2 separate regions of the Homo sapiens genome follow, and region 1 is linked to region 2. Evidence: fine-mapped expression QTL. A gene starts in region 2. The other region holds a variant in brackets. All regions are shown on one strand. Distances are from middle to middle.

Region 1 (4,384 bases), 22 kb before region 2:
TGATCATTCTTTCGAACTGTAGCCATCCTAGGGGGTGAACAGTACCTTGCTGAGGTTTAAATTCACATTTTCTGGATGAGTAGTGATGTGCAGCTCCTTCTCATGTGCTTATTATCCATTTACACACCTTCTGTGAAGGCTTCAAGTCTCTTCTCATCATTTTATTGGGTTTTCTTATTATTGTACTTTTTTTTTTTTTTTTTGGAGACGGAGTCTCACTCTGTTGCCCAGGCTGGAGCGCAGTGGCGCGATCTCGGCTCACTGCAAGCTCCGCCTCCTGGGTTCACGCCATTCTCCTGCCTCAGCCTCCCAAGTAGCTGGGACTACAGGTGTGCATCAGCATGCCTGTAGAGATGGGGTTTCACCATTTGGCCAGGCTGGTCTTGAACTCGTGACCTCAAGTGATCCACCCGCCTCCACCTCCCAAAGTGCTGGGATTACAGGCGTGAGCCACCGCGCCTGGCCGAAGTTCCCTTCTATTCCTTTTTTCCTCTGCTTCTGAAATTCCAATGACTTGTATATACAGTACCATCCCCTAGCTCAACTGATGCTCTTCTTTTCTCCCCCAAGGACTTTTTCTGTTTTTCATTTTAGGGATTTGCCATTTCTGTTGCTTCAAGTTTACCAGCTTTCCTTCTGCAGTGTCTCACTCTGATGGTAATCCCATCCATCTTTTTCATGTCAGTTTTCTACCAGTCAACTTTTTCTACCAGTTTTTATTATTGTTACTTTAAACCTTTTTTCCTGCCTTCTTTTTAGTTGATTTTTTTTTTTTTTTTTTTTTGAGACAGAGTGTCGCTCTGTCGCCCAGGCTGGAGTGCGGTGGTGCAATCTCGGCTCACTGCAAGCTCTGCCTCCCGGGTTCACGCCATTCTCCTACCTCAGCCTCCCGAGTAGCTGGGACTACAGGCGCCCGCCACCACGCCCAGATAATTTTTTTGTATTTTTAGTAGAGACAGGGTTTCACCGTGTTAGCCAGGATGGTCTCGATCTCCTGACCTCATGATCCGCCCGCCTCGGCCTCCCAAAGTGCTGGGATTACAGGCGTGAGCCACCGCACCTGGCCTTAGTGGACTATTTTTTATAATTTCATTTTAGCTATCAGCTTTTTATCTCTACTCCTCTTTGCATTGTATTTCTAGTGTTTGCCCTGGAGATTACCATAAACATACTTACCACACTAGAGTTAGCAGGTAGGTCCATTTCCCACCCGTGTCCCCACCTGTATTTGTCGTATGTGTAACATGTACATGTATTATAAACACAGTATAGTGTTATAATTGTTGCTTTCAACAGTCATATGTATTTTGAAGAAATTAAAAGGAAAGAAATAGTCTTTTACATTTACCTACATATTTACCATCCATTTCTGGTGTTTTTTTTTTTTTTTTTTTTTTTTTTTTTTTTTTTTTTTGAGACAGAGTTTTGCTCTTTGTAGCCCAGGCTGGAGTGGGCAACAAACCTCAGCTCACCACAACCTCTACCCTCCAGGTTCAAGTGATTCTCCTGCCTCAGCCTCCGGAGTAGCTGGGATTACAGGCATGCGCCACCACGCCTGGCTAATTTTGTATTTTTAGGGGAGATGGGGTTTCTCCATGTTGGTCAGGCTGGTCTCAAACTCCCAACCTCAGGTGATCTGCCTGCCTCGGCCTCCCAAAGCGTCATTTCTGGTGTTCTTACTTCTTCCCTATGATTCCGATTTGCATGTGGTATCACTCCTCTTCAGCCTGAGCTCCCTTTAACATTTCTTCTAGTTCAGATCTCCTGATGATGAATTTTCTTACTTTTCGTTAATCTGAAATGTATTTATTTTGCCTGTATTCTTCAAGGTTGTTCTCATCAGATAGAGAATTCTGAGGCCAGGCACAGTGGCTCATGCCTGTAATCTCAGCACTTTGGGAGGCCAAGGTGGGAGGATTTCTTGAGGCCAGGAGTTCAAGTCCAGCCTGGGTAACAAGTGAGACCCCATCTCTGAAAAAAATAGCAAGGCATGGTGGCATGCACCTGCAGTCTT[G/A]GCTGCTTGGGAGGCTGAGGTGGGAGGACTGCTTGAGCCCAGGAGGTTGAGTCTGCAGTGAGCTGTGATAGCACCACTGCACTCCAGCCTGGGTGACAAAGCAAGATCCTGATTCAAAAAAAATCCTGATTTGACAGATTTTTTTCCTTTCAGCACTTGAATGTTTTCCCTGTCTGGGCCTCCATTGTTTCTGGAAGAGTCAGCTATGGGCTGTCTGTGGGGCCCTTACATGTCATGTGTCTCTCCATCTCCCACTGCACTGGCTGCTGTCATGACTTTCTTCTTGAATTTGTGTTTCAGCAGTGCGATAATGATGTTCCTAGGTGTTTTCATTGTATTTATCCTGGGCTTTTGGGATCTATATTTGTGTTTTGCCAAATTTGGGAAATTTGCTCTTTTTCTCCTTCTGGGACTCCAATTAAATGTTAGGTCTTCCATATCTAGTAGACACACATTTGTGATTACTGCTCATTATTTTCTTTTTTTCTGTCCTTTGGATTAATTTGTATTTATCTAGACTTTCTTTAGCTATCTTCAATCTGCTGTTAACCTCTCCAGCAATCTTTTTAGAGCTTGTATTTTGCAGCCCTAGAATTTACACTTAGTTCTTTTTATTATTTATTGGCTAAAATTCCCTATTTGTTAATTTGTTTAAAATATATTTTATATTTATATCCTAAAGCAGAGTTGTAACTGCTGCTGTAAAATCTTAGCTACCGGTTCCAATATCTGGGTCATGTAGGATTGATCTCCATTACTTGCCTTTTGAGTATGGGTCAAATTTTCCTGTTTCTTATGTCTAGTCATTTTTTTGTATCATGGACATTGTGGATAATCCATTGTAGAGACTCTGGATTCTGTTACATTCCTCCAAAGAGTATTGCTTTTTTTTGGTTCATTTTATTAGGCAATCACCTTTGCTCAGCTCAGAGCCGAAACTCTTTCCCCTGTGGTGGATAGCAGCTGAAATCCCTGCTTGTAGCGTGAGTTGGCTTAAAGTCTGCACCTCCCCTGCCTCATGTGTAGTGTGGGAGCAACTAGTGACGAGGGCAGCATATGCTCAGGATTTGGGATCCCCTCTATGCCTGCTGCATCCCAACGTTTCCACCTTCACATTCCAGCTGCTGTGGTCAACAAAAATCTTTTATTTATTTATTTATTTATTTATTTGAGATGGAGTGTCGCTCTATCGCCCAGGCTGGAGTGCAGTGGCGTGATCTCGGCTCACTGCAAGCTCCGCCTCCCTGGTTCATGCCATTCTCCTGCTGCAGCCTCCCGAGTAGCTGGGACTACAGGCGCCCGCCACCACGCCCAGTTAATTTTTTTTGCATTTTTAGTAGAGACGGGGTTTCACCGTGTTAGCCAGGATGGTCTCGATCTCCTGACCTCGTGATCCACCCACCTTGGCCTCCCAAAGTGCTGGGATTACAGGCGTGAGGTACCGCACCTGGCCAACAAAAATCTTGATTCTGATTCTTTAAGCCTGGAAGAGGGCAGGCTTCGAGGTGGCTGATGCCCACACTGGCCCTGACTTGGGCCTACCCTGAGGCAGAAAGTTGTGAGAAGCAGCCGGGTGCAGTGGCTCACGCCTGTAATCCCAGCACTTTGGGAGGCCAAGGCGGGCAGATCATGAGGTCAGGAGATGGAGACCATCTTGGCTAACACGGTGAAACCCCGTCTCTACTAAAAATACAAAAAATTAGCCGGGTGTGGTGGTGGGCGCCTGTAGTCCCAGCTACTTGGGAGGCTGAGGCAGGAGAATGGTGTGAACCCGGGAGGCGGAGCTTGCAGTGAGCAGAGATCGCACCACTGCACTCCAGCCTGGGCGACACAGCAAGACTCCGTCTCAAAAAAGAAAAAAAAAAAAAGAAAGTTGTGAGAAGCAGGAAGCCTGCCCAGTGCCACCCACTCCCAGCATCAGCCTGCTCACGGCTGCCCCCAGTGCCTTTCCATGTGTCCGTCGTCATTAGGGGGAGGGCTGCTCTCACAGGAGTCGTGCTGCTGTTGTCAGAAGCCTCTCTTCTCATTCTTTTTTCTTTTCTGAGACAGTCTTGCTCTGTTGCCCAGCTGGAGTGCAGTGGCATGATCGTGGCTCACTGCAACCTCCGCCTCCTGGGCTCAAGCAATTGTCCTGCCTCAGCCTCCCAAGTAGCTGGGACTACAGGTTCCCGCCACCACGCCCAGCTAATTTTTGTATTTATTTATTTATTTTTTAGTAGAGACGGGGTTTCACCGTGTTAGCCAGGATGGTCTTGATCTCCTGACCTCGTGATCCGCCCACCTCGGCCTCCCAAAGTGCTGGGATTACAGGCGTGAGCCACCGCGCCCGGCCTCTTTTTCAACCATAATTCTGTTGTAGCCAACATAGAG
Region 2 (4,367 bases):
TCAGCACTGCCAGCCGGCCCTCGCGCAGGAATCTGGCCAGCAGCCGCGCCATCTTCATCAGCCGGAAGCTGGGGCTGAAGATACGGGCGTGTTGGGCAGAGCCGCCAACCCCCATCCTCGGGGCCCCCTTCCTGCCACAAGGAACCAGCAGCCCGGATTACACGGGCAGCCCCAACAACATAACCAGCGTGAAGTCCAAAACCACAAGCCGGATGGGAAAATCTGTTAATCCATTCCTAAATAACTGCGATTACTGTGTGAGAGCTCTCGGGGCCCTGAGCGGCTTCCCCAACCTGGAGTCTCACTGGACACCCCTCCCCTGCTGCTGACGCGGATAACTCAGTGCTTGCTTTGATCACAGCAACCTCTGAAAACCCAGCTTCTCAAGATGCAGTGTCCCGGCAAGGACTGCAGTGTGATCTGAGGCTGAGCCTGGGAGCCGGCTGGGGCTGGGAGTCCACATGGGACACGTGTCAGTGATGACAGCTGTGCTTCCCTGGAAAACCTGGAACGTCCCCAGCTGACGGGCTGCCTCTGCCGCCTGGGATGTGAACACTCCCACCCCATCCCTCTCTGACACAGCCGGACGGGGAGCAAGTGGGGGACTTTGTGAGACACAGCAGGTGCCTCCCGTCGCAAAGGAGACAGACACAGACCGCTTCTTCTGTTCAGGGGTTCAGCCAGGAGCAGGCTCTCTCTCTAGCCCCTCACAGGGACTAGAGAGGCTCTTGGTCCAGTCCTTCAAGCCACTCTCATCACTTCTGAGGCTACCGGCAACCCCAGGATGGGCCCAGCCCACTCACCCCGCAGCACCCTCGATGGTCTCCATCAACACCAGGAAGGCTTGGTCCGCCGGGCCCTCCAGGAAGAAGCTGGCCCACAGCTCCTCCAGGCGGCCATGGGGCAGCAGCTCCAGCCAGGCTGGGCTCAGCCTGCTGGCAAGACATCTGAGGACAGGCGAGAAGTGGGCCGAGGCAAACTCCTCCTTCTCCCTCGGGAGCGCTGGAGGCTCCATCTCACCGAGATACCGCTTCAGGGACTCCAGGGTGCAGAAGATGTGGCCGCCATCCTCCGAAGACGAGAGGGCATGAATGGCTTCCCGGACGGCGAGTCGAACCTCTGAGGGTGCTGGCTCCATCCTGCAGGACAGATCTGGGCGTCACGGGAAGACGACCTGTGACATGGACACAGGGCTCAGCTTGGGGCACGGAAATAATCCACACAAGCTCAGGAAGCCCCTCGGTGAGCGCCCCGAGACCCCACACCCCTCAACCCTGGTCCCACCCAACCCTGTCCCGCCTCCTTCCCCTCCAGTGCCTGCCGGTTTCCACCCAGAGTTCGCTCCTCCGCTCGGACCCCAACGCTACCAGCCACTGCAGGGCTTCTCAACCCGGGCCACTGTGCCCAGGGAACATTCTCAGTTGTCTCAACCGGGAGTGCCACTGGCGCGAGAGGGAGGTGGAGGCTAGAGATGCTGGTGAGTGTTCCCCGGGCACAGCGCGGCCCCACGCGTCCTCGCACCCAAGGCGGGAAACTCGGCCCGCGGGAGCTGCCGGCCCTCCCGGCTCCCTGAGCGGTGAGAGGTGGCTCCAGTCGCCATTCCTCCGCCCCTTAGAAACCAACAGCTTACGGGGAACACGGGTTCGGGGCTAGAGGAGCCGCACGCGGACCCGCCCCCGATCCAGGCCCGGACCCCGACCTGTACCCGGACCCCGACCGGACTCCTACCCGACCTGGACCCGACCCAACCAGACCTGGAGCCCAACCCGACCCAACCGGACCCCCGATCCCCGATCCCCGACCCCCAACCCGACCTGGACCCGGCTCCCGGGTGACTGCAGCGCGCTCAGGCGCCGCGCGCCACCGATTCGCTGCAGCCGATTCCCCACGGCCGCCGCGGCCCCGGACGAAACGCGATCGCGGCCCAGCCGGTTGGCCCCGAGCACGAGTTCCTGGGTCCGGGCGAGGCTCCCGCGGGTTTTCTTGAGCCTCTGGGGCGGGTCTCCGCGGGCCTCTCAGCGCGAATCTGCGGAGGACGCCAGGCGGGAGGGCGCATCTGCGCCTGCGCTGCGCGGGGACGGGGCGGAGCCTGGACGCGGGAGCGGGGGGCGGTGGGGTGGGCGGGGCCTGACGCGTGAGTGGGGCGGGGCCTGAGGGCAGGGCCGCGCTTCCCCACGTGGCTGCGAGCTGGGTTCGCTGCGCCCGGGTGGTGGGTTCTCGCCTTAGTTTCTCCCATCTCGGTCGTCCCTACCCTGGAGTGATGTCAGCCGTCTCTTCCCTCCGCCTCGGGTCCCACATTCTCTCCAGAACGCCGAGCGTTCGCTCTAAGGCAGATGTTTACCAAGACAGGCCTGGCTCGTCTTCCCCGGATGTAAGGCTCTGCTTTCAAGGGTCAGAGGCCAGTAAGGGAAACGCACGGTACACAAGGAAGTAAAAGAGCAGTTGAGATCATGTCAGATCTGAACAATTGCAGCTCCGTAAATGAGGCCGGGTCGTGGAATAAAAACTGCGACCAGTAGGGTAAGCGCTAGACGCATGTGGCTCTGTAAATTAACTGAAGTTAAATAAGTCCAGTTCCCTTGCAGCACTAGCCCCATCTCAAGGGCTCGGTACTACCTTTGGCTGTGGCCGCCAGGCTGGACAGCCGGACACTGAACATTTACAACATGCAGTGCCTTCTGTACACCGCAGCGGAGTGTGGGGGGCTTCATCTTTGTGGAGGGGGCAATCCAGGAAGACACCTAAAGAGGCGCCATTTCAGCAGTGATGGATGTGGGAAAAGCTGGGGAACAGTTATCCATTCAACAAACATTGATTAAATGCCTGCTTGGTGCACCAAGCCTTCTGAGCAACAAATGATGCAAAGTTCCTGCTCACCTATCGGGGGAACAGATAAAGTACATACGAAATATGCCAGGTGACAGGCCTCGAGCAGAAAAACTGGCAGAGGCCGGGCCCGGTGGCTCACGCCGGTAATTCCAGCACTGGGAAGCTGAGGTGGGAGAATCGTTTGCACCCAGAAGTTCAAGAATGGGAAAAATAGTGAGACCCTGTCTCTACAAAAAATTTAAAAATTAGCCAGGCACGGTGTCATGAGCCTGTGATCCCAGCTACTCAGGAGGCTGAGGTGGGAGGATGGCTTGAGCCCGGGAGGTTGAGGCTGCAGTGAGCCATGTTCACTGCCACTGCACTCCAGCCTGGACAACAGAGCAAGACCCTGTTTCAAAAAAAAAAAAGGAATCAAAATAAAAAACCGGTAGGGTAAGAAAATAAGAGCCAGTGGCCGGGCACAGTGGTTCACACCTCTAATCCCAGCACTTAGGGAGGCCGAGACGGGTGGGTCACAAGCTCAGGAGTTCGAGACCAGCCTGGCCAACATGGTGAAACCCCGTCTCTCCTAAAAAAAGAATAATAATAATAATAATAGTAATACAAAAATTAGTTGGGCGTGGTGGCATGTGTCTGTGATCCCAGCTACTTGGGAGGCTGAGGCAGGAGAATTGCTTGAACCCAGGAGGCAGAGGTTGCAATGAGTGGAGATTGTGCCATTGAACTCCAGCCTGGGTGACAGAGCGAGACTCCTCCAAAAAAAAAAAAAAAGAAAAGAGCCAGAGAGCAGTGGGTGCTGTCTTACGTAAGGTGAGAGCTCTGAACAGAACACCTTAGAGCAGAGCCCTGAATGTGTTGACAGCCAGGGAAGAGTCTCACTGGCAGGAAAACGGCAGGTGCAAAGGCCTGAGGCCGCAACTGTTGCCCGGGAGGTGGAGCCGAGGGAGGCATATGCAGGGGTGAGGCCTGGAGGGAGTGAGGCAGTGGGCCAGGCCACAGAAGGCCCTCGCAGGGACTAAGATTTTGCTTGTGTGGCAGGCATCTCCTGGAGCCATTGAAGGCACGGGTCCATGCTGGTGCAGTTAGGAGAGCAGACGGTAGGGGGGCGACACGGACGAGGGGACTAGGTGGCCATTGTGAGGATGAGCTTGGGGCGGAATGGGGGTGTAGAGAAGCAGCTGAACTCAGGGCATGTCTCTGCAGGCAGAGCTGATGGATGGGATATGGGGCAGGCAGCATCCCATCATCCCGGAAACTCCTCCTCCGTCCGCTGCTGGGTTCCAGCCCTCGCCAGTGCCCACGGCAGCTCCGTCCTTCCCTATTCCCTTCTTTTCCTGAAGCCCCGCATCCAACAGTGGGTGCTTGGAGGACAAATTTCTCAAGCCTTTGTGTGTCTGAAAATGTCTTTATTCTTTGCTCTGTCACCCAGGCTGGAGTGTAGTGGCGCGATTTCAGCTCACTGCAACCTCCTTCTCCCCGGCTCAGGCGATCCTCCCGCCTTAGCCTTCCAAGTAGCTGGGACTGCAGGTGCACACCAC

What was found. PIP is the estimated chance that this variant, and not a neighbour inherited with it, causes the effect. A credible set is the group of variants that fine-mapping cannot tell apart.
Region 1: its variant is the best candidate, but not a certain one, in a credible set for the expression of TELO2 in sun-exposed skin (GTEx, PIP 0.61).

The regions. Positions count from the first base shown.
Region 1 is chr16:1,513,170-1,517,553 of GRCh38, reverse strand. The region is part of intron 30 of IFT140 (intraflagellar transport 140); the gene reads left to right. Among named protein-coding and RNA genes, the nearest start is that of TMEM204, 18 kb to the left of the region's middle. The variant G/A (reference allele first, on the strand shown) is at 2,015.
Region 2 is chr16:1,491,053-1,495,419 of GRCh38, reverse strand. It overlaps TELO2 (telomere maintenance 2), which reads right to left and starts at 2,060. Exons shown (of 21, transcript NM_016111.4): 1 at 1,815-2,060; 2 at 804-1,174; 3 at 1-74. The coding sequence starts at 1,138. RefSeq lists enhancers at 1-453, 1,355-2,255, 2,353-2,402 and silencers at 1,623-1,822, 1,833-1,882, 2,053-2,142.